7 linked regions of the Homo sapiens genome follow. The protein of the gene in region 2 interacts with the protein of the main gene of each other region in a biochemical or structural test. Each region holds a gene or a part of one and is shown on either strand. Other genes may lie near its edges. The genes, in order: STAT3, NFKB1, NFKBIE, DPF3, MTPN, IRF2 and HDAC5.

What was found.
Region 1: the proteins of NFKB1 (region 2) and STAT3 form a complex in vitro, tested with the Homo sapiens proteins (one study listed by BioGRID).
Region 3: the proteins of NFKB1 (region 2) and NFKBIE form a complex in vitro, tested with the Homo sapiens proteins (one study listed by BioGRID).
Region 4: the proteins of NFKB1 (region 2) and DPF3 form a complex in vitro, tested with the Homo sapiens proteins (one study listed by BioGRID).
Region 5: the proteins of NFKB1 (region 2) and MTPN form a complex in vitro, tested with the Homo sapiens proteins (one study listed by BioGRID).
Region 6: the proteins of NFKB1 (region 2) and IRF2 form a complex in vitro, tested with the Homo sapiens proteins (one study listed by BioGRID).
Region 7: the proteins of NFKB1 (region 2) and HDAC5 form a complex in vitro, tested with the Homo sapiens proteins (one study listed by BioGRID).

The regions. Positions count from the first base shown.
Region 1 is NC_000017.11:42,378,443-42,381,942, reverse strand, and holds part of STAT3 (signal transducer and activator of transcription 3), read left to right. Parts: intron 1-3,500. UniProt on the Homo sapiens protein: Signal transducer and transcription activator that mediates cellular responses to interleukins, KITLG/SCF, LEP and other growth factors. Once activated, recruits coactivators, such as NCOA1 or MED1, to the promoter region of the target gene.
Region 2 is NC_000004.12:102,598,859-102,602,358, forward strand, and holds part of NFKB1 (nuclear factor NF-kappa-B p105 subunit), read left to right. Parts: exon of another isoform or gene 1-877; intron 878-2,036; coding exon 2,037-2,151; intron 2,152-2,786; exon of another isoform or gene 2,787-3,173; intron 3,174-3,500.
Region 3 is NC_000006.12:44,260,109-44,262,551, forward strand, and holds part of NFKBIE (NF-kappa-B inhibitor epsilon), read right to left. Parts: intron 1,741-2,443; coding exon 1,518-1,740; intron 432-1,517; coding exon 343-431; intron 175-342; coding exon 1-174. UniProt on the Homo sapiens protein: Sequesters NF-kappa-B transcription factor complexes in the cytoplasm, thereby inhibiting their activity. Sequestered complexes include NFKB1-RELA (p50-p65) and NFKB1-REL (p50-c-Rel) complexes.
Region 4 is NC_000014.9:72,621,602-72,625,101, forward strand, and holds part of DPF3 (zinc finger protein DPF3), read right to left. Parts: intron 1-3,500. UniProt on the Homo sapiens protein: Belongs to the neuron-specific chromatin remodeling complex (nBAF complex).
Region 5 is NC_000007.14:135,967,360-135,970,859, reverse strand, and holds part of MTPN (myotrophin), read left to right. Parts: intron 1-3,500. UniProt on the Homo sapiens protein: Promotes dimerization of NF-kappa-B subunits and regulates NF-kappa-B transcription factor activity. Plays a role in the regulation of the growth of actin filaments.
Region 6 is NC_000004.12:184,419,051-184,422,550, forward strand, and holds part of IRF2 (interferon regulatory factor 2), read right to left. Parts: intron 519-3,500; coding exon 419-518; intron 1-418. UniProt on the Homo sapiens protein: Specifically binds to the upstream regulatory region of type I IFN and IFN-inducible MHC class I genes (the interferon consensus sequence (ICS)) and represses those genes. Also acts as an activator for several genes including H4 and IL7.
Region 7 is NC_000017.11:44,113,642-44,117,141, forward strand, and holds part of HDAC5 (histone deacetylase 5), read right to left. Parts: intron 2,355-3,500; exon of another isoform or gene 2,271-2,354; intron 1-2,270. UniProt on the Homo sapiens protein: Responsible for the deacetylation of lysine residues on the N-terminal part of the core histones (H2A, H2B, H3 and H4).

The sequences.
Region 1 (3,500 bases), on a different chromosome or scaffold from region 2:
TTTAAATGTCATTAAAATAAGTTATTTTGTCCTTTTTAGAAAAGTAATAACATGCTATTATAAAAAAAAAGACTTGTAGGAATATAAAATGTGTGTTTTACATGTATCCTGTTAATTGACTTGCTTTTATTCAGATTTTTTGCAGCCCTTTCTGTTTACCAGGTTATCTTGGAGACATATTTATTCCAAATTCCTTTTTTTTTTTTTTTTTGAGATGGAGTCTCGCTCTGTCGCCCAGGCTGGAGTGCAGTGGCGCTATCTTGGCTCATTGCAAGCTCCGCCTCCCGGGTTCACGCCACTCTCCTGCCTCAGCCTCCCGAGTAGCTGGGACTACAGGCGCCCGCCACCACGCCCAGCTAATGTTTTTTTTTTTATATTTTTAGTAGCGACAGGGTTTCACCGTGTTAGCCAGGATGGTCTCAATCTCCTCACATTGTGATCCGCCTGCCTCGGCCTCCCAAAGTGCTGGGATTACAGGCGTGAGCCAGCACGCCTGGCCTTCCAAATTCCTTTTAACAGCCTAGCAAAAGAATAATAAGGAAGGTAAATCTGCCCCTACAAGAAAATAATGCTTCGACGATCCGGCTTTCCTTCCTGCTACCCCCAGCCATAAGAATAAATGACCTTGCTCATCACTGAAATTTTACCTGACCTTTGAATTTTTAACTGCGTCAGCCAAAGAACTTATATTTTGAGTATTCCTAAGGTGATTGCTATTGTAGTTTTGAAACACTTGGTTGGTATGTTTGAGGGTTTCATGGTCCAAAGTTACTATAGCAGTTAAAAGAGTGGACTATCAGGTCAGACCTATTGGGCTTTAATCCCAGTTCTGCCTTCTCTTAGACCTTGGGCCTGTTGTTTTCACTTCTCTGGTTTTCAGTTTCTCTGTCCACAATTGTGGAAACGAGGTCCACTTGTAGAGTAATTGAGAGGATGAAGCAAGATGATGCATATCAAGTACTTTGCATAGTGCCGGGCAGACAGGTAACATTCAAGTGCTAATAATTACTATTATTACTATTTATTTTTTGAGACAGGTTCTCACTCTGTCACCTAGGCTGGAGTGCAGCGGTGAGATCACAGCTCATGACAGCCTTGACCTCCTAGGCTCAAGTGATCCTCCTGCCTCAGCCTTCGGGGTAGCTGGGGCTACAGGTGTGTGCTACCACCCTCAGCTAATTTTCTAATTTTTTTGAGTCAGGATCTCGTCACGTTGCCTAGGCTGAATTACTCTTATTAAAAACTATAATATCAGGCCGAGTGCGGTGGCTCACGCCTGTAATCCCAGCACTTTGGGAGGCCAAGGCGGGTGGATCACCTGAGGTCAGGAGTTCAAGACCAGCCTGCCCAACAGAGTGAGACCCCCCCCGTCTCTACTAAAAATATAAAAATTAGCCAGTTGTGGTGGTGGGCACCTGTAATCCCAGCTACTCGGGAGGCTGAGGCAGGATAATCGCTTGAACCCGGGAGGCGGAGGTTGCGGTGAACCGAGATCGTGCCACTGCACTACAGCCTGGGTGACAGAGTGAGACTCTGTCTCAAAAAAACCGAAAAACAAAAAGCATAATTAGGGTGGTAACGCTTATACATAGGGGCAGGTGGAATAAAACATAATTAGGAGGTCGGGCATGGTGGCTCACGCCTGTAATTCCAGCACTTTGGGAGGCCGAGGCGGGTCAGGAGTTCAAGACCAGCCTGCCCAACATAGTGAGACCCCGTCTCTACTAAAAATATAAAATTTAGCCTGTTGTGGTGGCGGGTGCCTGTAGTCCCAGCTACCCGGGAGGCTGAGGCAGGAGAATTGCTTTTGAACCCAGGAGGTGGGGGTTGCAGTGAGCTGAGATCGCGCCGCTGCACTCCAGCCTGGGAGACAGAGCAAGACTCCGTCACAAAAACAAAAAACAAAAAACTGTCATATCAAAAACTAAACTAAAATGGTAATATCTGTTAGATATTACAAAGTCAGGCAAATTATGATTCATGGCAGCCACTAATGACCCAAAGGAGAGAAAGAATAATTAGCAGATTCTAACCTAATGGGAAAAAAACTAAATGAATAGGGATGGGGGACTTACATTCTGTTAGAGGAAATTGAGGCTGTCATATAAAAGGAATAGGTAAGGCAAACTGTAAATTCCTGTTTACACAAATGCCCTTCTGATAAATCTCTGCATTGCCCACAGTCCATGATTACCTCTCCCTTATTTTAAGTAATATTTAACACATTAAAAATGGATTACCACCCAAGGAATTGCTCCCGACCCAGAAAGTGCAGGTAGTGTTGAAGGTTTGAGGGGAAGAGGAATGATTAGAGTTGGTTGTGTCTCAGGAAGAAGCCAACAGGAGGAACCTTATTTTGAGTCAGGTAAAGAAGGTGGGAGTGAGGAGGCATCCCGGTGGCCAGGTATGAAGCTGGGAGCTGATTGCTGCACATTACTCAGCTGAATTAAATGTGCCCTCACATCTGTGTGTGTGCGTACATGCAAATGTACATGTGTATGAGTTAGTTGGAGGGGTAGACCTTTATTTTCCTGTCCTGTAACTTTCCTTTGCAAACTAATCTGTATTCAGAACAGTGTTGCAGTTAAGAACCACCCAGCTTGTCCATGAAACAGGTTCTCTCACCCCATCTCCCCAGTTTTAGAGAAGGCAGGAAAGAAAAGGCAGTGCTTTTCTTTTTTCCTGGCCGTATGCGGGGCAGGAAGAAGCCAGCAGAGCTTGAAAGAGAAAGTAAACCTTCTGGGAAATAAACGGCTTGGCTTCCCTATTGTGGAGGAGGAGTGCAAATTATTAGGGGGATGTTTGGGTAGTTTTTGTAGAAGCCATTTCTGAAAACTGATTTGGATTAGTGAAGGTAAGCCCAATTTAGGAAAACCCTGCCCAGTCTGGTGTCAGCCACCTGTTTCCCGCTTTGTTTGATTGATTTGATTAGTTTGTGGTATTCTGACCTCTCATTTTTATTACAAGAGTTGGAAGATTTGAGTCTGAACTTGAGCACCTGCTTCGGTGAAAGCTTCCTAAAATGCATGTTTTTTCACATTTTTTCTCATGTTCATTTTGTTTTGCTTTTTAGCAAACACTTTTTCTGACAGAATCTAAAAGCATTAGACTTTTCTTGTTTTCCCCTTCTCTCCCCACAATGTAATCTTGAAAACCCAAATGTTAGCTGTGTAAATTACCTCTCCCGTAAACCAAACAAAGTGCAATATTGCATTGAGTTAGCATTGAAATAGTCGGCCTTTGAATTTTTTTCTACTTGTGGTTTAGACATAATAAATATTTCATCTCAGACTGACTTTCTCGACAAATCAGTTTTGCATTTGGGCCTCTTTTCATCAGTATGTTTAGGGAAAGCACATTTATTGAAACATTAACCAAAATGAAACATAATTAGGAGGCCGGGAGCGATGGCTCACGCCTGTAATCCCAGCACTTTGGGAGACCAAGGCATGTGGATTGCTTGAGGTCAGGAGTTCAAGACCATCCTTGCCGACTTGGTG
Region 2 (3,500 bases):
AAGTTCCCTCCTAAGACCCAAGCACACTCACACAAGCCGGCTCTCAGAGAGGCCACAGATTTGGGACTTGGAGAGACCAGAGGATCCTCATAAGAGCATAGGTATAGGGCAGCTTTTGGCCATCACAGCCCAAGTCTCTTGTTTTAATTCAGCTCGTCATATTTGGCTAATAGTTTAAATCCTGTGGCCATTAGTCATCATAGAAAATATAATAAAGAAAAATATATAAAACTTCTGCTATTGGGGAAATTCCCATAAGGGTGTGAGGATTTGAGGGGGAGGGGGAATGTACTTCTGCTATGAAATGCTGAGCGGCACATGGAAATTTTCGAGCAGTTTTAGAAGTATGACCTTTTTCTTGGTGTATGTGCATCATGTCTATGTCAGAGTTTAGGCCCTTTTCAGAAGTCTTCTTCCAGTATCACATTTCAAGAAGCAATAGTGAAACCCTGAGATCATCCGTTTTAAAATATTTCTCAAGTAGCAAAATCACAATTTAGTTTTTTAGGCTCTTCTGTGCCGGAGTTAATCCCAAGTACGATATACTTGCTATTGCTAAGGAAGAGGCTTGAGTAAAGTGGCACCTGATAGCTTATTTTAGAGAAGATCCAGCCTGTACCTCGTGTCCCAGATGTAGTGCTGCTGCGAGATGCTTTAGTGTGCTCTGCACCTCAATCTGTCCATGCTCTGGAGTGGTCATCTTCTTAGACATTCATCTGAATGTCTTTAGAACAGTGCACATGTATCCCCTATGCAGGATTGCTTAAGGGATTAAGAGATGGCTTTGGAGTAAGACAGGCCTGGGCTTGAATCCCAGCTTCACCACGTATTGGCCTTGACTGAGTTATATGACGCCTGCAAGTCTCAGTTTCATTAGCTGAAAAGTGAAGATAATATTACCTAACTCATAGGATTATTGTTATAGTAAAAAGACAATATATATCAAATGCTTAGCATAGTCTGGTAAATCAAAGCTCCCAACAAATAGTAGCCACTGGTAAAATGATTGTTATTGTTATTGTTTTGAATTTTAATAGTATGTTTTTTAATAATTAAAAGAATTACGCTCCTGTGAGTGACTTTGACACCACCAGTATGTTCAGCCTCATTAGCGTAAGCTCTTAAGTTCCTTCTATCATTCTTATTTTTGTGCCTCTACTGCATGCTAGGGTTGTAAGGCTGACTCAGACAGAACCTGCCCCAGAGATGACAGGACAGAGAACGAGAAAAATGTGTAGAAAACTGCAGTTGCATAACCAAGCAGTAAATTTGAGAGGGACAACTTGCTCCACCTAGGAGGTTAGGAAAGTATTCTCTGAGGATGTCAGGTTTGAACTGGAATATAAAGGATGGAGTAGGCATTGTTCAGGCAGAAGAAAGGAGCAAAAACATTCCAGGCAGAGGGAATATTTGCTGGAATGTTTGCAGGAGTGGTGGGAAATACAATCACTTTGTTTCTTCACAAGTTTACTGCAAGAATTTTCTTCCAGTAGTTAAAAGCTTCACTCCATTCTCCACTCTTGGGATCTGGAAAGATCTTTAAAAAACCACCACACTGTATTTTGGAGGAGGGCAGCAGGGCTAAGTGAGGTAACTAAGTTTTTCTGAACAATTCCTAGTGCCAGGCATTCATTTTACATAGAATCTGTGTGTCAGGAAAAGTCAGGGGGAAAGGTAGAGAAGAAAACCGCCCAAAGCCATGGTATAGAGGCAGGATTGGGATTTAAGCTTAGGTCTTTCTGGGCTGGAAGCCTCAGTGTGTTTATACATCAAGGGGTCAAGACCTGAATGCTCCCAGAGGCCAGGAAGGTACCACAAATAACGTAGCAGCCTTGGGTAGGCAGTTGGGAGGGACCAGTCCTCTGGAGACAGCATCCCACCTCAGATTCAATGCATTTTATAGATTCAAAACATTTTAGGGCCAAATAAAACTAGGTATGAGAGCAGATTCCATTCTTGAGTCTAATCACATCTTGGGAATCTTTTCTTTTTCATTAACATTTTAGTTAATTATTGCCACTGTGTTTTCATTCCAGTGTCTTACACTTAGCAATCATCCACCTTCATTCTCAACTTGTGAGGGATCTACTAGAAGTCACATCTGGTTTGATTTCTGATGACATTATCAACATGAGAAATGATCTGTACCAGGTAAGCAGAAATCTCAAGAAAACAACTGAAGAAAAATCTGTAGTTTACTTTTTCTTCTGTTATGTTTGGGTGCATGTTATTTTTAGTAATGTTAACAGTAGCAAAAACAAAAACAAACCTTTGTAGGTAATATCTAAAATCCCATTAGTTGAGAATGTTACTTTATGATGTAGGATCCTTTGATCTGTGGGTATAACAGCCATCAAGCCACAATGAAATTCAGCATCCCGCTGGGGGAAGGCAAACTTTAAACTTTAGAAATCAAACAGTTTTTTCATTTAAGAGGGAGAAACTAAAGTAAAAATGTCACATCTGTCAAGAAAAATAAAGTTAAAAAAAGTTTGAAAAGCCAGTAATTTATAATAATTTTGAAGTCTACTGAAACATACCTTGACAACATCCAGATTAAATGTATATCAAATGAAGCATTCTGAAATCACCACACAGAAAGGTTAAAAGTTTGCTTGAGGAGGAAAAGGTGTCTTTCAAAAGCAGAAAGACAGCTCCAAGTGAGGAAAAGTGGGAACACCAGAGTTTTGCCCAAATCAGGTTTTCTTAGGAATTAATTAGGTGGGCTGAAAATACAAGTTGAGGAACTGTTTTTTCCAGAGGTCTTCCAACACTGCAAAGGGAGAGTTAGCTGGAGACACAGCGAGGCCCTTTGATGGGCATATGCAGAATTCAGGGAGAGGCAAGGAGCCTGGGAGCCACTTCGGCAGAAGCAGAGCTTGGACGTTGGTGATGGGAGCCCAGTGACCCCAGCCAGCCTTTCTGGCTGAGCGACTGCACTGGCATGAAACCAAGATGGGGTTCGGCTCCTGAGGTTTCCTCCTTCCTGCCCCTGATTGCTTTTCCCACCTCACTGTCTTTCCCCTACTCCCACCAGTCTGCTGTATGGGGCTCCTGCCCTTGCCCACTTCTTACCTTTCCATTTGTCTCCTTCCCTTCATCGACCCGAAGCATCTTCCTCATCCTCCTTGGAGAGATGGTTTGCTGGTTCACGTGTATCTCTCACTCCAAAACTATGGCCAAAATCCTGTGTAATTATTTACTTAGTAAAGATATTTGTTCCTGCTCTCTCAGTTTTTATAGCAGTGATGTGAATCATTTCTATTTCCTCACTTTAAAGGAAAATGCTTTTATTATTTTAAAGAAAATTAATTAAAACTTCATTTTCTTTAAAGGAAATTAAAATATCTATTTTCTTATTTTTATTTCCATTCTTTAAAATGTGCTTTAGGCTGGGTGCGGTGGCTCACACCTATAATCCCAGCACTTTGGGAGGCCGAGGCAGGCGGATCATGAGATCAGGAGATCGAGATCATCCTGGCTAACATGGTGAAACCCCG
Region 3 (2,443 bases), on a different chromosome or scaffold from region 2:
GCACAGAGTGGATGAGATGCCCATGAGACCCCGGCCAGCTGCCAGGTGCAGGGGTGTGCACCCGTTCAGCATGCGGGCATCTACCTGGGCACCAGCCTGGAGCAGGAACTGTACCAGGCCCCGCTCTTGGGTTTCCACAGCCAGGTGCAGCGCTGTCTTACCACTGGTGCCCTCCTGGGGAGGAATAAGGATGTCAGCCAAGGCCCTCAGAGGCAGTGTGCTGGGCCTGGGCTCTGGATAAGGAAGTGAATGCCACCACTTCTGACTGCTGGGCAGGGGACTTGGGGATGTGTCAGGTGGGGGCAGGCCCTGGGCCGGGCAGTGCTTTGCTGGCTGTCTCACCTGCACATCAATGTCAGCTCCATTCCGAAGCAGCAATTCCATGAGTGGTTGGTTCTTCTGAAGGGTGGCAATGTGGAGACAAGCCAGACCTGGGATGGGGTGAGAGTGAGGGTGAGGGCTGCTGATCTGCATCCACCAACTCCCTCTCTTCTGGGACCTCCCTACCACTCAGCCCCAAGGGACTCACAGCCCACTCAATGTCTCTAATCACAAGACTGTTAAAATGCAAACCCCAAAACCCCCTCAAAAGTCTAAGGGGAAAGGAACTCAAAGTTTCCACCTTTTCAGAGTCATGTTATTGAAACTTTCATGCTTCAGGGGTCAGGCTGCTGAGTGACACCCCCAAAGAACACCCTCCTCCTATACACAAACTACAACACACACACACACACACACACACACACATACAGACACACACACACACACACACACACACACACAACCTGCCTTCAAGCCCAGTCTGAAAGCCACCTTTTCTGAAAAGCCACCTAAGATCCTCATGCCCCCAGCCCTTTCTCAGGGGCCGCTTCCTTCTGTGCTCCCCTGGCCTTTTTGCTCTCCTTTCTAGTCTGGACACTCCCGACCCTTGCTTAGTAATAGAGATTTCGATTCAAATTTACATTCTTCACCTTCCTCAGGGCGCTATTCAGATGTCACTGGCTCCATGAGGCCTTCCCGGACCACCCTATTTAACAATCATATCAACTCTCCTACTCCCCACATTCCTTCCTCTCACTCTGCTCTGCTTTTTACTACAGCACTTACTTCCTTTTAACATATTACATAGTTCACTTCTTACATTTATTGCTCATCTCAATCTTTCTCTATTTTGCACACAGATGCAAGTGTAGCTCCTAGGATAACGTCTGGCACATAGAAAACCCTCAGTACATTTCTGTTGAATGAATGAATCAGGTCATCTAATCTCTATTAAACTAAGTATCTTAAGGGCAAGATTTAGTTTTCTTCTCAGCAGGCAGTAGGTACTGGTTAAATTCGAAATCAAATCATCCATTCATTCATTTGGCAAAGATGTACTGAATATCTATGTGCTTACAGTGGGAGGGGCACCAATGGACAAGCTGGGACCCTCCCTTCCCCAAGAGTGAGGTCCCTATCTCCTATGCCCTCCTCATCCCACAGGCCCTAAGGGCAGTCTTAAAGACTGTCCACACCTTGCCAGTTTTGCAGCTGGAGGTCCAGAGAGTGAGATGTTCCTCTGCCTGGCTCTGGCCGCCCTTCCAGCAGGCAGCGGGCACAGGCCAAGTGCTGGCGCTGGCAGGCCACATGAAGGGCTGTGTCACCATGCCGGTCCTGTAGTGCCCGGCTGGCCCCCTTCAGCACCAGTGCCCGAACTGCGCCCGGTTGGTCCAGATGTACAGCCAGATGGAGTGCTGTCTGGAGGCACAAATAGAGGGTCATGGGGCCACTGCAGCATGCTCCCACCTCTGGGAACATGCTTGGGCTCAAGAATCACCAGCTGCCAGCATCTTCTTTGAAAGCAGCTTATAAAGGCCATAACCTGTTCTTCCAAGGAAATACTACCGAGCCCTTCCCCTGTCACACCCCTCCCCCACCAAGCTCTTGGGATCCCAATTCTGGAAGCAAGGTGAAGAAAGTAGCTCTCTGCTTTTCTTGTAAGTCACCTTAGGCCCTGGAGAAAGGACATGTAGGAGGAGAGTCTAGCCCCTCACCCTGTGAGGAGACCTCTGTTACCCCCAGGGGTTAGGCTGCAGGAGGAAAGATAGAGGCACCGGGCAGTCTCTCCCTGGCAAAACTCTCTGTTAGGCTCCATTCAGATGGCATCTCCTCTGTAAGCCTTCCCTGGCTGCTGCACACAGACACTGGACCCTATAGCAGCTGGTATGTGTCTCTATCACAACTCTTGTCACCAGGCTGTGTATTTAGCTGTTGATACAAGTCCCCCAGCCCAGGATGCAAGCACCTCAGGACAGAGGCCATGTCTTACTTGGGTCTGTCTCCTCAGTTTCTAGCTCAGTGTCTGGCATATGGTTTCCTAAGTGAGCAGCCTTTGGACTGGTATGGCTGCTGGGAATGGCTGCCAGGGCACAAACAGGTATCTGGGCATAACATTCTCTCG
Region 4 (3,500 bases), on a different chromosome or scaffold from region 2:
CAGTTTAGAAAGATCTTACTAGCTGCTATGTAAGAGTAGATACCCAGTGGGGGAGAGGTTCATTCAAGAGGCCCGGGGACCAGTTAGGAAGCTGCTATAGCTATCCAGGTGCGTGATGATGGTGGCCTGAATTACAATTGCGGCATGGAGAAAGAAATGGGTCTTGCTCCCATTTAAGCATCATTGATTAGATGGGGAGAGTGATAGGGAAGAAGCCAAGGATGCCGTCTGGGTTGTGGCTTGGTCAGCAAGCCAGATGATACAGCCACCCAATGGGACATGGGAGGAAGAGCAGACTCATGGGAGGGAGAGGGCAACCTCAGCTATAGACATGTTCTACAGATAGGGATGACCTGGAGGCTGTTGAAGAGAGCAGGAGAGAAGTCTGGGCCTGAGATATGGACTTGGGATTCATTGTAATTAGATGGCAAGTGAAGGTCCTAGGAGAGGAAGCCCAGAATGTGTGAGAGCAAATGTCTTTGACCTTGTCTTCATGGAGAAGTGTCCATGAACCCCTTGAAATGATACACACAATTTTGTACATAGGTAGAAATGTACATTTTTCTATGGAAAGAGTAAGTCCGTAGCTTTCATTGAATTCTCTGAAAGATCAAGGACCCAAAAGAGTTTACTGAGAAGAAGGCCAAGAGTTTACTGAGAAGAAGTACACTTGGGGTACTCCAACTTTACAGGACAGGCAGAGAAAAAAAGACTGAAAAGGAACAGTCAGAGAGGTGGGATGAAGACGAGCACACTGTAGTTTACGCCAAAACAGTTACATCATTATTGCAGAGCCAGCATAAGCTACAGGACAATTTGATTTAGGGATAATACAAGGAGAAACAAGTTAGGATGGAGACAGAAAACAGACAGGACTTGTCAGAAACAGTGTTATTAATGCCTTAAAAACAGTAATAACCCCTACTACAGCAGTGACATGGGAAATACAAATAGGTAGAATATCCTGGATTACAATTTCCCAAAGGAAAACTAGGCATCTGAGAGTTTAAGTGCATTTTGCATGGGTTGACCACTGTCTAGCACCATATTCTCTTCTCTTCCACCACCAAGAGCCCCCAGCTTATGCTAACTCTCATGACAAACACAATTTTAGTACCTCTCACTACCAACTATCCAGGAACCAGGAATCACCTATTACTACAGTTCCAGCAGAATGGGAATCCCATTCTCGGATATCCAGGGTAAATCCCTGACCATGTGAGAGGAATCCTAGTGCCCCAACAACCTCACCCCCTGACTCCTCCTCAAAGGCTCTGCCAAGTCAACAAAAAAATCCTCTACATTTACACTATCTGTAAAGCCAAAGACCAGCGTCAACCTAAATGTCCATCAATAAGGGAATGGTTGGATAAGTAAAAATTATGCAGCTGTAGGAAGGAATGAAGAATGTCTATATATTCCTCCAGATTAATCTCTAAGATATTCAGAGAAAACAAGCAAGATGGAGAAAACATATATACTTGTTACCATTTTTCATGGATTCATATATACACACACATGTTTACATTTAAACAAAATGGAAAGACAAATCATATTTTTTAGTGGTTGCCTATATGCAGAGTGAAGGAATAGTGTGGAAGAGGTAAGTAGAGAGCTACATTTCTTTGAATATAATGTTTCTTTATAAATTTGATTTTAGAACCAATAAATATTTTACACAGTCATAAAACAAAATTTAAATAGCAATATGTCCCTAAAAAAAACAAAAGAAAAATGAGGCAAATGAATTTGGTTATGTATCCAATTGGTAGCATAACCACACAGAGAGAAACTATTCCATCTGACTATAAAACAATTAATTTGACAATACATCCTTAGTAGGACATACCTTAAGGTCATACATAAATGCAGATCTGCATATATATGTGTGTGTGTGTGTAATGTTCAGCAATTATATTATTGGTTTAAATATTGGAATCAATATTCTGAGACTGCTTTATGTGCATCAAATGAGTAATTATGTTGGTATTATTGAAGAGCAAGATTTTGTAACATGGTTGAAAGAAAATAGAAATGTAGGCCAATGAAGTTAAGTCAAAAGTCAGTAGTTGGTTCTAAGTATGAACTGGATGCATCAGTATAAATTCATGGTGTAGTGTATCTTTAAAACAAGCAAAAAATATTTTCTACCTCTGTCCACAGAAAGTGCTCCAAAACAATGACTAACAGCAAAATTAGCACCTCTAGCACCCATATTATGTTCTCTAAAGACCATTGCCCACTAAAAGGAATTAGGAGTCCTGGGAGAAATAAGTGATTCCAGGTCTGGAGCATAAAATGTATAAATATATTTACATATTACAAAGTAAGGAAGCTATCAAATACTATTAGGATTATGTCAAAAGGACTCAGGATCCAACCTGAATATGTTACCACTGGTCAAAGATGGGACAATTTTACCTATAATGGATTATAACAAATAAAATATGTTTAAAATCTTAAGTTCATAAACATATTTTTTAAAACCTTAGTCACCTTCAGAAGATGCTAGAGAAACATCACACTATATTTTTATTTATTTATTTGAAATAATTTTAAACTTAGAGAAAAGTGCAGAAATTATGCAGAGAATTGTACTCACTGTGCCCTAATATTAACATATTATATTACTATAGCAGAATTACGAAAATCAGAAAATTACCATTGGTGTAATACTGTTAACTAATCTACAGACTTTATTTTAATTTCTCCAGTTTTCCCACCTATGTCTCTTTTTTTTTTTTTTTTTTTTTCTGAGACAGAGTCTCACTCTGTTGCCCAAACTGGAGTGCAGTGGTGCCATCTCGGCTCACTGCAGCCTCCTTCTCCCGGGCTCAAGCAATTCTCCTGCCTCAGCGTCCTGAGTAACTGGGATTACAGGCATGTGCCACCATGCCTGGCTAATTTTTGTATTTTTAGTAGAGACAGGGCTTCACCAAGTTGGCCAGGCTGTTCTCCAGCGCCTGACCTCAGGTAATCCGCCCGCCTCAGCCTCCCAAAGTGCTGGGATTACAGGCGTGAGCCACCACGCCCGGCCCCCAACCTATGTCTCTTTACCAGGGATCCAATCCAAGATCCCTCATTGCATTTAATTGTTGTGTTTTCTCAGTATCCTTCAATCTGTGACAGTTCCTCAGTTTCTTTGTCTTTCATGAGCTTGACACTTTCAAAAAATCCAAGCCAGTGATTTTGTAAATGTCACTCAATTTCAGTTGGATCTTTTCTCATGATAAGATCCACATATGCATACATTTTTTAGCAAGAATACCACTAAAGTAATGTTGTGCCCTTCTTGGCGCATCATATCGGGGGAAATTGAGGCCAGTACGTCTTATTACTTGTAATGTTATCTGTGATTATATAGTTAAGGTAGTGTCTGCCATTTTTTTCACTGTAAAGTTACTGTTTTTCCCTTTGTAATATACTAATAAGTAATATTGTTGGGGAGATACTTGGAGATTATCTCCTCAACAAGAGAAATAGGATATTTGAGATTATGT
Region 5 (3,500 bases), on a different chromosome or scaffold from region 2:
ATGTCAGCTTGTATAAGATACAGGTGCCCTCAGTAGACAGAGAAACATTAGTATAGATTCTTTTCTAATTATTAATGCTTTTAGTCATTTTAAAAAATATATAAAATAGAGGAAGATCTTTTTTTACATTGGAACATAAATGTTCATTCAGATGTACATAGGCTATATAAAGTGTTTTGGTTTGAGATTCTAAACATTTTCCTTTTATTAGTGCAGATAATTAAAAATTTAATGAATTAAAACTGATAGAAATTATAACAATATTATGAGCTTGTTATTTAAAAAAGCAAAGCTGTATTGAATAAAGTAAAATATCCCATTGACTATTTTTCCTACCTATGTGGTTCCTCTCTTTAAAATATAAAATTGATTAGGTGTTTTTAAAACAGAAAAGAATAAAGAAGACAAAAATTGGCCAAAATTTTACTATTTAGATAACTCCTAACTTTTAAAAAGTAAAATTAAATTAATTCAGATGTGGATTTTAAAATGCCACAGTTAGGACTGAAAGGTAAAGATCTCCCCTCCCCAATGCCTGTGAACAAATCAGCCATTCTCAACAGGTCCATGTAATTAATTTCAGAAAAACATTGAAAATTTACTTACTCATCTGTTTTTCCCGCTTAAAAAGTTCTGTAAACACTTCTGCACTTTGCTTTCCACATTGAAATGTATTTATTCTTCCCTTTTTAAATGGTGAATAGTATTCCATTTTCTGGATGTTTATTTAACTATTCCCGTATGATAAACATTTTGTTTCCAGTGCATCTTTGCAATTAAACAGGATTGTCGTGATCACCTTTGTACATATACCTTGACAACTTTTGAGACTATATCTGCATTACTCTCTTCATGAGTTTCGTCAGCTTAGGCACACATTGGCAGACATGAGACCGATGGTTCCCTCACACCATCAACAGCACTGGGCATCATCAGACTTTTTAGATTTTGCCATTTGGATAGGTGAAAAATGATTGTTTATGTCTTTTGTTTATTTTTCTTTTAGTTGGTCTGTTTTTTATTGGTTTGTATAAACTCTATAAATTAGGGAAATCAGTTTTTTATCATGTTTTGCAAATATCGTTCCCAGTTAATCTCTTGACTTCATTTATTTTCTTATTCTACAATGGTCTTTTACTTTTTGTGGGGTTAAATGTATCGCTTTTTTTCTCTTTTGTGACTTGGATTTTGTATCCTGTTTACAAAGACCTTTTCTCTTCTGTAAAATTACAAATAAATTTGCTCTTCTGGAACTTCATTTTTTCTTCCATTTTGGACATTTGACCTTTCCATTATTTATTTTGAAGTAAGGCATGAAATAAGTGTATACTTTTTTTTTGACAGTTCTCATACCATTTATTATTATAGTTCCTCTTTTTTTTTTTGCACGTTAAGTGGTATATATTATAACAGATATTAGGAAAATGCAAATTAAATCCACAATGAGATACTACATTATAACTATTAGAATGGCTAAATTGGTAAGACTGAGAAGCTCTAAGGTGAAATGTTCAATAAATCATATTTAAAACTTCTTATCTGTATTAAGTAAATATTATTTTGTTTAATATTTTTTCTAGTAATTTCTGACATTCTTTTTTTTTTCTTTTTTTTTTTTTTTATTATACTTTAAGTTTTAGGGTACATGTGCACATTGTGCAGGTTAGTTGCATATGTATACATGTGCCATGCTGGTGCGCTGCACCCACTAACTCGTCATCTAGCATTAGGTATATCTCCCAATGCTATCCCTCCCTCCTCCCCCCCCCCCACCCCACAACAGTCCCCAGAGTGTGATAATCCCCATCGCAAGAACAAAAAACCAAACACCACATATTCTCACTCATAGGTGGGAATTGAACAATGTAGTTCCTCTTTACTAATAATTTGAACCATCATCTTTATCATAAACAGATTTCTTGCTCTTTTTCTATCTATACCAAACTGATTTAATGATGTGTGGTTTCAAAATAGGTTTTAGTATCTCCCTCTCACATTCTCTTTAGGATTTTTGCAGGTGATTCCTTAAAATTTTTTTTCCCATAATCTCAAGAAAAATATTAGGATGATTTGAACCTACCTAAAACTTAACCTGTATCTTTTAATAAGCATTAAGCTTTTTTTTTTTTTTTCTGGAATGCTGGGATCGTGTGATCTGTGGGACATAATACTTTAACTTTTAATTCTTTATGAATCATCTTAGGAGGATGTCATGCACTGTGAGAATGTGCCATATCAAAGATTCAAAACAGAGGAAGTGTGTTTAGATAATCAAATCACAGCAAAATTGGTGATGAAAGTTAGTTTATGGTATTACATCACAGGCCACCTTGTAATAAGAAAAATGGCTGAAAGTAATTTTTTTGCAGCTATATCTTTACTAAATAATTCTGATAAGCTTAGAAGCTTGATTTTTTTTTTCAGTCCACAGAAAATTACCAGTGTAAAGAGGAGCTGTGATTACTGAAAGAAAAGAAACCAAAATGTAAGAAGCTGACCCAAGAAAGTGAAGGGCAAAGAGCCATATTTACCTTAAAGTTTCAGAGGCCTCAGGCAATAATTAATATGTATAAGCGTAACCTTGAGCTTCACGAAAAGTTTAAACTTGGTTACTTTTCTCTTATTTACAAAGTCAGAGACATGTATAACATATTTTAGGAAGATTTCAATTTGACATATAAAAAAGAATGAGCATTTTGATACTTAGGCCTAAAGTAAGTATCTGAAAAATACTGAAAAATGGAGGTATTAAAAAAAAATTGTAGGCCAGGCATGATGACTCATGTCTGTAATCCCAGCATTTTGGGAGGCCAAGGCAGGAGGATCTATCACTTGAGCCCAGGAGTTCAAGACCAGCCTGGGCAACATAGCAAGACTTCCATCTCAACCACAAAAAAATTGTAGGTAGTAAACACTTTAAACATAGTACAATAGACGCTCATTATGGCACTGTCCTTTAGGGATTTGGAATTGCATTATTGGTGAAACCATAGCATAGAGGCTAAATGTGTTGGCTTTGGAATTAGATCTTCCAGGTCTGGCCTTCTTACTAACTAGACACTTTGGGTGAATTAAGCACTCAGAACTTGAGTTTCTTCAATTGGTGAAAATGGGAATGATTGTAATACCTACATAATAAGTGTAAACTGTGTACCATTGTGCCTGGCATATGGTGAGTGCTAGTAAATATTAGCTGTTGTTACTAATCAGCATCCTCATAAATTTGTTTAGAAGCAAGATTACTTACAGAGCAACTAGTCCAGCTCCCTTATTTTATAGATAAGGAAAAATTAAGTGTGAAAGCCCTTGACCAGTATCATAGTGCTATTTGAGATTGAAATTTAAATTCAGTTTTCCTGAACTTGGATGAGGGTTGGTTGGTTGGTTTTCCGCTACACCATTGTGTTTGCTAATGAAGTCATCTTGTGCTAGCTGTTACCTCTAATAAATTATTCTTTTTGTCCCACAACATCTGCTTGGCAAATTTCTTCTTCTTCCTG
Region 6 (3,500 bases), about 82 Mb from region 2:
AGCTGAGTGCCTCTTTTTCATCTGACGCTCCAACAAAGTCCATTCCTGTAAACAGCTCCCTACGTAAAGGTTGTAATAAATACAGGTATTTCTGACTACCTTTTTGGGGGGGAGATAAATTTGACCAAAGTTTATAGCATCAGAACAACTGAGTTTCTATTCCCCGGTAACACCTAGGGAACTTCTTAGAATACCACATTTATAGGAAATTGAAGGACTAAGAGTGTATGGGATGAGGGGAGCATTACTTCTGAGGGCTGCAGTTTGTACCCCATGTGTCCTGGATGTGCCTAGGGACAAGTCACAGGTTTTTCAGAGCCATCTTCATGAGGTCATAAGCCAGGCTATTTTATGTGTAATAAAAACAAAACTAAGCAAGAGTGCCTTCCTCTATAAACGCCGCAGGGAGTTTTAGTACCTGTATGGATTGCCCAGTTTCTAAAGAGTGGTGCATCTTTTTCCACATCCCACCCATGTCTAGCCGCATGCATCCAGGGGATCTGAAAAATCTTCTTTTCCTGAAAAAAAAAAAAAAAAAAAAGGTAAAGAACTGGAGTCATGGGTTTTGGCCCACCATTGCAAAAGGTTGTGAAGGTCTAGCCAGCAAGATTCCCCAGCAAGCATCGCTGAATGTGTTGACTGCTGACAAGAAAATCTACTGTAAACCAAACCCACTTCCCCCGCTGGATCCCAAATCTTGATAGACTACCCCGAGTGACAGTCAGTCTCGTGAAGTCTTGCAGAGCAGGAATGTTTTCCAAGGTCAAAGGTGATGATTTGACCTTGTGTGTTCCATTATTTGTGCCTCTTTTCTAGTTTTCAATATATTTTTTTGGAGACAGAGTCTCGCTCTGTTGCCCAGGCTGCAGTGTAGTGGCGCGATATCGGCTCACTACAACCTCCACCTCCTGGGTTCAAGAGATTCTCCCACCTCAGCCTCCTGAGTAGCTAGGATTACTGGCATGTGCCACCACGCCTGGCCAAGTTTTGTATTTTTGGTAGAGATGGGGTTTTGCCATGCTGGCCAGGCTGGTCTCGAACTCCTGACCTCAAGTGATCTGCCCACCTCAGGCTTCCAAACTGCTGAGATTACAGGTGTGAGCCACCACACCCGGCCCTGTGCCTCTTTTTTTTATAAAACCACAGAAAAATGGCCACCTACCGAAACTTCTAATGCTTACTCTTATAATTTATTCTCGTCGTTTGGTAAATAGTAACTCCAGCTATCTTAGGTAAATTAAAAATTAGACAAGTTTCCAAAACCCTTGATGCTACTAAAGAAAAGTCGGGTACATCTGAGGCCACTGTCACAGAAACCAAATATCTCCATTTGCTTGTGCATCCAACAGAAATAGAAAGTAATGTTCGAATCCCTGTGGGTCTACTGCCTGCAAGAAATAGCAAGAAGTGCAAACAAAGAGGTAGAGGTTATGAAATGACACATTTTTCTGGAGAAACATCCCTCAATACAATCCTTATATCAGACTATCTCTACATCTCTCTCAGTGTTGAGGTCTGTAACTCAAAACCGCCTCAAGCAACCCTGAAAAACACATGATTGGAAACCCATGGTTTAGTAACAAAGCCGTACTCTTAGTAAAGCTACAGATGAGGAACCTGGCCCAAGCAGCTCTTGTGGCGGTACCGGCAGGTACTAAGGTCCCATTGGCACTGTGCATCTGACTACCCACATCCACAGGGACCTCAGTTTTGTCTTCCTCCCACAGCCTACTGAGTGAGGTATATGTTACGATTTCCATTTTATAGCTGAGGAAACCAAGAAGCAGATTTTAACTATTTAGTCAAGGAACTTGCAGGATAATAAGTGTCTAAGTTCAAAACCCAGGTCATGCGACTCCATATGCTATTACTTAATCACCCACTCATTGTCTCCCAGCTTTTAGATTTGGAAGAGTCCCTGTCCTATGACAGACCAGTTGAGACCTGGATTCTGTGGAGATTAAAGCCCAGGAGGTTGTACTCTTTCAAAGCTCTCAAGGCAGTTCTGGTAATTGCTAGGTATGCGGATCCCTGCACTAGATGCTGAGGAAGGAGAGGAAATGTCAGCAGGGAGTTTCCACCACTTCAGTCTCACATAGTGAAACACAGAAAGGGTCCCAGCTGTCCCCAAAGAGATTCAGCGCCTCTCCACAGAACCAATCACAAAGCCAGAACAAAGACTATTTCAGAACATTGGAGAGTTTCCCAAAACCTGTTAAAAGGAAAATTCTACCATCTTCTAAAAAGTCAGTTATTAAAGGAGAACTGAAAGTGAGAGACTTTTTCATAAATTCCTCGGTGTTCATTCTGTATCATCCACAGAGAGGGCTTCGGGTTAGCCAATTTCAAAAGGACAGTGATCAGAAAGGGGCTGAGTGACATTTTATGCTTTAATGTAGATGAAAATCGACAGCAAAATCACTTAATGCCATTTATTGATGTTCACATGAAAATGAATACAAGTGAAAATTCATTTCGTGAAAGAGCTTTTCCTGAAGTGCATGCCCAGAATCTAAAGCTTTATGCTTAAACACCGAGATTCTTAAGAATTTGCTGTTGCACTTTTTTCTAGATCAAAGGAGTTCTAGGGTGACACAATCTGAAATCTAACTTGCAAGACACAAAATTGATACAGATAAAGTAGATCTTTTTAAGCATCTGCACGCATGCATGCATACACATACACACACACACAACCAAACCTAGTCCCACAGAAACCGCAAAAGCCATGCAACTACAAAAGCGCTGACCAAACCCAGCAACATACACTATGGACCCTCTTGAAATGTGCAACAGGCCTGAGTAGACTGGAATAGTTCAGGTGTTTGTCCCCTCAAAATCTCGTGTTAAAATTTGATCGCTAGTGTTGCAGGTGGGGTCTGGTGGACGGTGTTTGGGTCATGGGGCAGGATCCCTCAAGAATGGCTTGGTGTCGTTCTCGTGGTAATGAGTAAGCTCTCACTCCATTAGCTCCGGTGAGAGCTGATTATTCAAAACAGCCTGTCGCCTGCACCATTCTCTCTTCCTCCCTCTCTTGCCATGTAATGCCCTTTGCCTCCCATCCTGAGGCCTTAACAGAGGCAGATGCCAAGGTCATGCTTCTTGTACAGCCTAGAACCCTGACCCAAAGAAGCCTCGTTTTTTTATAAATTACCCAGCCCCAGGTAGTCCTTTGTAGCAACATGAAACAGACTAACCCACAGACATGTCTCCAAAAAAAGATACACAAATAACAAACGTTGGTGAGGATGTGGAGAAACTGGAATCCTCACACATCGCTGTGGAAATGCAAAATGGTACAGCCACTCTGGAGAAAAAGTTTGGCCATTCCTCAAGAAAGTGAAACACAGAATTACCTGATGATCCAGGAATTTTACACCTGGATATATACCCAAAGAATTCTAAGCCAACATTCAAACCAAAACATAAACGTTCATAGCAGCACTACTTTCAAAAGCCAAAAGATGGAAACAACCCGAGTGTCCATCAGCTGATGAATG
Region 7 (3,500 bases), on a different chromosome or scaffold from region 2:
GGTACATGAGCTTCACCCAGAGCCAGGACTGTCTTCCCCAGACTCACTCTGCCCCTCCCTCAAAGGCTGCACTCTGACCTCCTAGCCCTCTGAATCTGAAGGAGGAAAAGAGCCTAACCCTGGCTCCAGGTTCCATTTCCTGAGCCCAAAGGCTGTGGGGATGGGGGGACCTTGACCAAAGGGAAGAAAGCAAGGTCTGCTTAGTGTGCAGTGAAAAAGCCAATGGCTGGCCCAGGAGCACCCTGGATGAAGTGTGAGATGCCAGCTTCCCTGAGACCCAGATATCAGACCTGCCCACCCTCCTGTTCTTTCCTGCCCTTCGAGCCCAGTCATGCTGGAGCCCATCAGCATGGCCTGGGAGCTGCCATGTGCCAGCCAGGCCCCATGCTAGGTGTTGGCTGAACCCTCTCATTTGAAGCCAAGTCCAGGAAAAATGTGAACACCTACTTTGGCATCTTCTACTTCCCCTCAGGGTTGACCCTGCCTTCTCTGGCCATTCCATTCTAAGCCTTCAATCTCTTTGGAATGATAGAGCAGGGAAGAGGAGGGGAGAAGCAGGTCCCGCTCTGCAGTGAGCACAGAGGTGTGCCAGGGGGCATCTCAGTAGAGAAGGGAGGCCAGGAGTCTACTTCTCAGACCCCAGCCCCATGCCAGGATTGACCCACTTTCTCACTGCCTGCCTTCCCTGGGGGCTCTGAAGGAGGCAGAGCCCAAGGCTGGAAGGCAGGACACCGAGGTTCCTGGCTCCACCCCACACCCATGCCCCAGTTTCTCTGGTCACCCAGAGAGCAGGCGTGGGGGGGGGGGGCTGCTGCCCTCCATCCTGGAAAAGGGAAAGAGAGAAAGTGTGAAGGTTCTGGGAGGCGCTGGGCAGGCAGGTGTTGTCATGAAGCTTGTCTCCCTCCCACACTGGGGAGAAGGATCCTGGCCGCCTCCTCCATGGCCCCGCTGCCACCCAGACTGGCTTGCACAGTGGGCCTCACTCTTGCCTGCTCTTCTGGGCAATGGCACAAAGAGGGTACAACCAGAGCTGGCCTGGGTCCCAGGCCCCTGGGCAGCTCCTCCAACCTGGTTGGGCCGAGTCTGAGCTGAGGGAAAGTTCTGTCAGCCTTTCAGCCCCACTGAGGAGAACATGCAGAAGCAAACAGTTCCAGAAAAATAAAGACAGCCTTAATCCTCAAACCCCCTTTTGCCGGAAGAAAAGGCAGAGATCAGGGAATGGTCTCAGGGAAGCAGGCAACCCCATCAATAGCCTCCGCCTGTGATTCCAAGACTGCAAAAGAGGTAAATAAAGTCAAAGGCTGGTAGGCAGCCCGAGCCAGAGGGAAGTCATCAGCTCCCACCTTCCTGGGCAGTGGGCCCCAGAAGGAAATCACTCACAGTCTCCACCTGCTGCCCCTCACCAAAACAGTCTCTCTTGCTAACATGTTCACTGTGAGGACCAGGGATGGCCCATCTCATATTTTCTTCTGTCTTCCACAGGCTGAGCCTGTTGGTGATACTCAGTGAGGACTTGCCAAACTGAAAAGCTCCTACGCTGAGAGGACTTGAGGGGAACCAGAAGCTCTGCCCCTTACAAAGCCTACTGTCCTTTACTCTGGGGAAAGAGGAGCAAGTGTTCAGGGAAGTGAGGAAAAGGTGGGAGGCGCTCAGGGGCTGCAGCAGACCCTGGGGACTAACCATTTCCTTCCTTCCCACCTCTTATCTCCTGCCCCATGGCCCATACCTTTCCTTCTTGGGGCTCTCTACAGGGAAGTGGACACCCGCGTGCTCTGGCTTCAATCGGTGGTCTCACTTTACTTCCGCCGAGTTCCAAGGCATGTGGTTTCCAGGCTTCTGCCAGGCGCTGGGCACCCCAGCCCTAGCCCAGATGCCAGCCCAAGCTCTGGGAATAGCAGACGCTAGGCCCCTCAGAAAGGAAGAGCTGGGGGGAGGCTGACTATCTCCCTGGCCCAGGGCAGCTGGAACCCCACAACTGGGAAAGCCAGTCCAGAACCCCAGGAACACTCTGCAGGAAGGGCCTCAAGCAAACATCCCCAAGCAGTGGCCCCAGTTCCAAAGCCTCTCAACAATCCTAAAATGAGGTTCCCAATCCCTGGCCCCCTCCTTTTTTCCTTCTTTCCCCAACACAGAGAAGACAGCATCTCCCCCTGCTGGGGGGAGCTGGAAAGCCAGGCAGGACGCGGGGCCCATTCCACAGGCCCACTCAGGACGCCCCTCCTGGCCAGGGCTCAGCAGTGGCTCTCAAGCTGCCAGCCTCCTGCGTTGGTGGACACGTCCAGCTCCTCCAACACTCTTGTCAGCTCCCACAGAGGTAGCTGCAAGGGAAACTTGGACCGCCAGCATCTGGAAAGGTAACCCAATAACTTCATCTATCCTGGGTTGATTATCACATTTCCCTGCAAGGGAAAGAAACCCCAAAGCTGGGAAAAATCCTTTCCAAGCCACCAACAGATGCCGCTAGGCAGCTTCAATTCCCTTGGCCAAGAGTTAGACCCCAGCCCCATGGGAAGCAGGGACTGCAGATGGCTCCTGGACAGGTCAGCGTCACAACTCAGAGGAAAGAAGTAGCTGGCACTACTGCCCGACATGGCTGAGCTTGCTGGGGTAGTGTCCAGCCAAGATGCACGAGGGACAGATGAGGACCCAGGCCTCTCCTTTCCCTTCGCCATCCAGCCTCAGAGGGGCAAGCAAGAGGGCAGAGCTGGGCAGCCCACCTGTCCCAGCCCCTAGGGGCTGAATGAGGGCAAGGGCAGAGGGAGGAATATCTGAAGGAGAACAGCAAACCCTACAGAAAGGATGATGGGGAAGAAAATGTGGGGTGGTCTGGATTCCTCCCTGATGCTGCTTCTGTACAATCCTGCAAATGGGTATTCATCCTAGGCCCCAATTGCCCTATCTCTAAAAGGAGAAATATCCACCTACCCCTACATAAAAAAGATGAGGAGTACGATGGGCCGTGGAGAGCTAAAGTTGAGCAAGATGGACCTTTAACACTGTGTGGAAGGAGACACCCGAGGAGGAGGAGACGACAGCCACTACTCTGACCACACTGCCCCAGGACCCTCCTGGGAAACTGCTGAGGGTCCAGCTCAGGCCACTAGAACACAGCCTCACAGGCATACATCCAGACCCAGCTGCACATCAAGCTGCCTAGAGTCCCCCAAATAGACTATTTCTGGCAGCACTGGACAGGGTCCTAGGAACAAAGAGGAACAGGAAATCTCAGAGTAAAAGACCCCAGATTAGCAATCTACCATATGAAGGGCCCAAGAGGAAGAGAGGCAGTCTACCTGGACTCAGAGGAGAGCCGAGACTCCTCTACACACGTCACCCCACTCCCACCCAATGCCACGCACCTGCACACGGAGGTTAAGGCCCAGTGCCCTTGTAAACCTCCACTAAGAAAAAAGTATGGAACACAAACATTCCACTAAGTAAAGAAGCCACCATCACGAAAAGGAAGCTGAGCATTCTGCTATAGTAAAGAAATTCCTCCA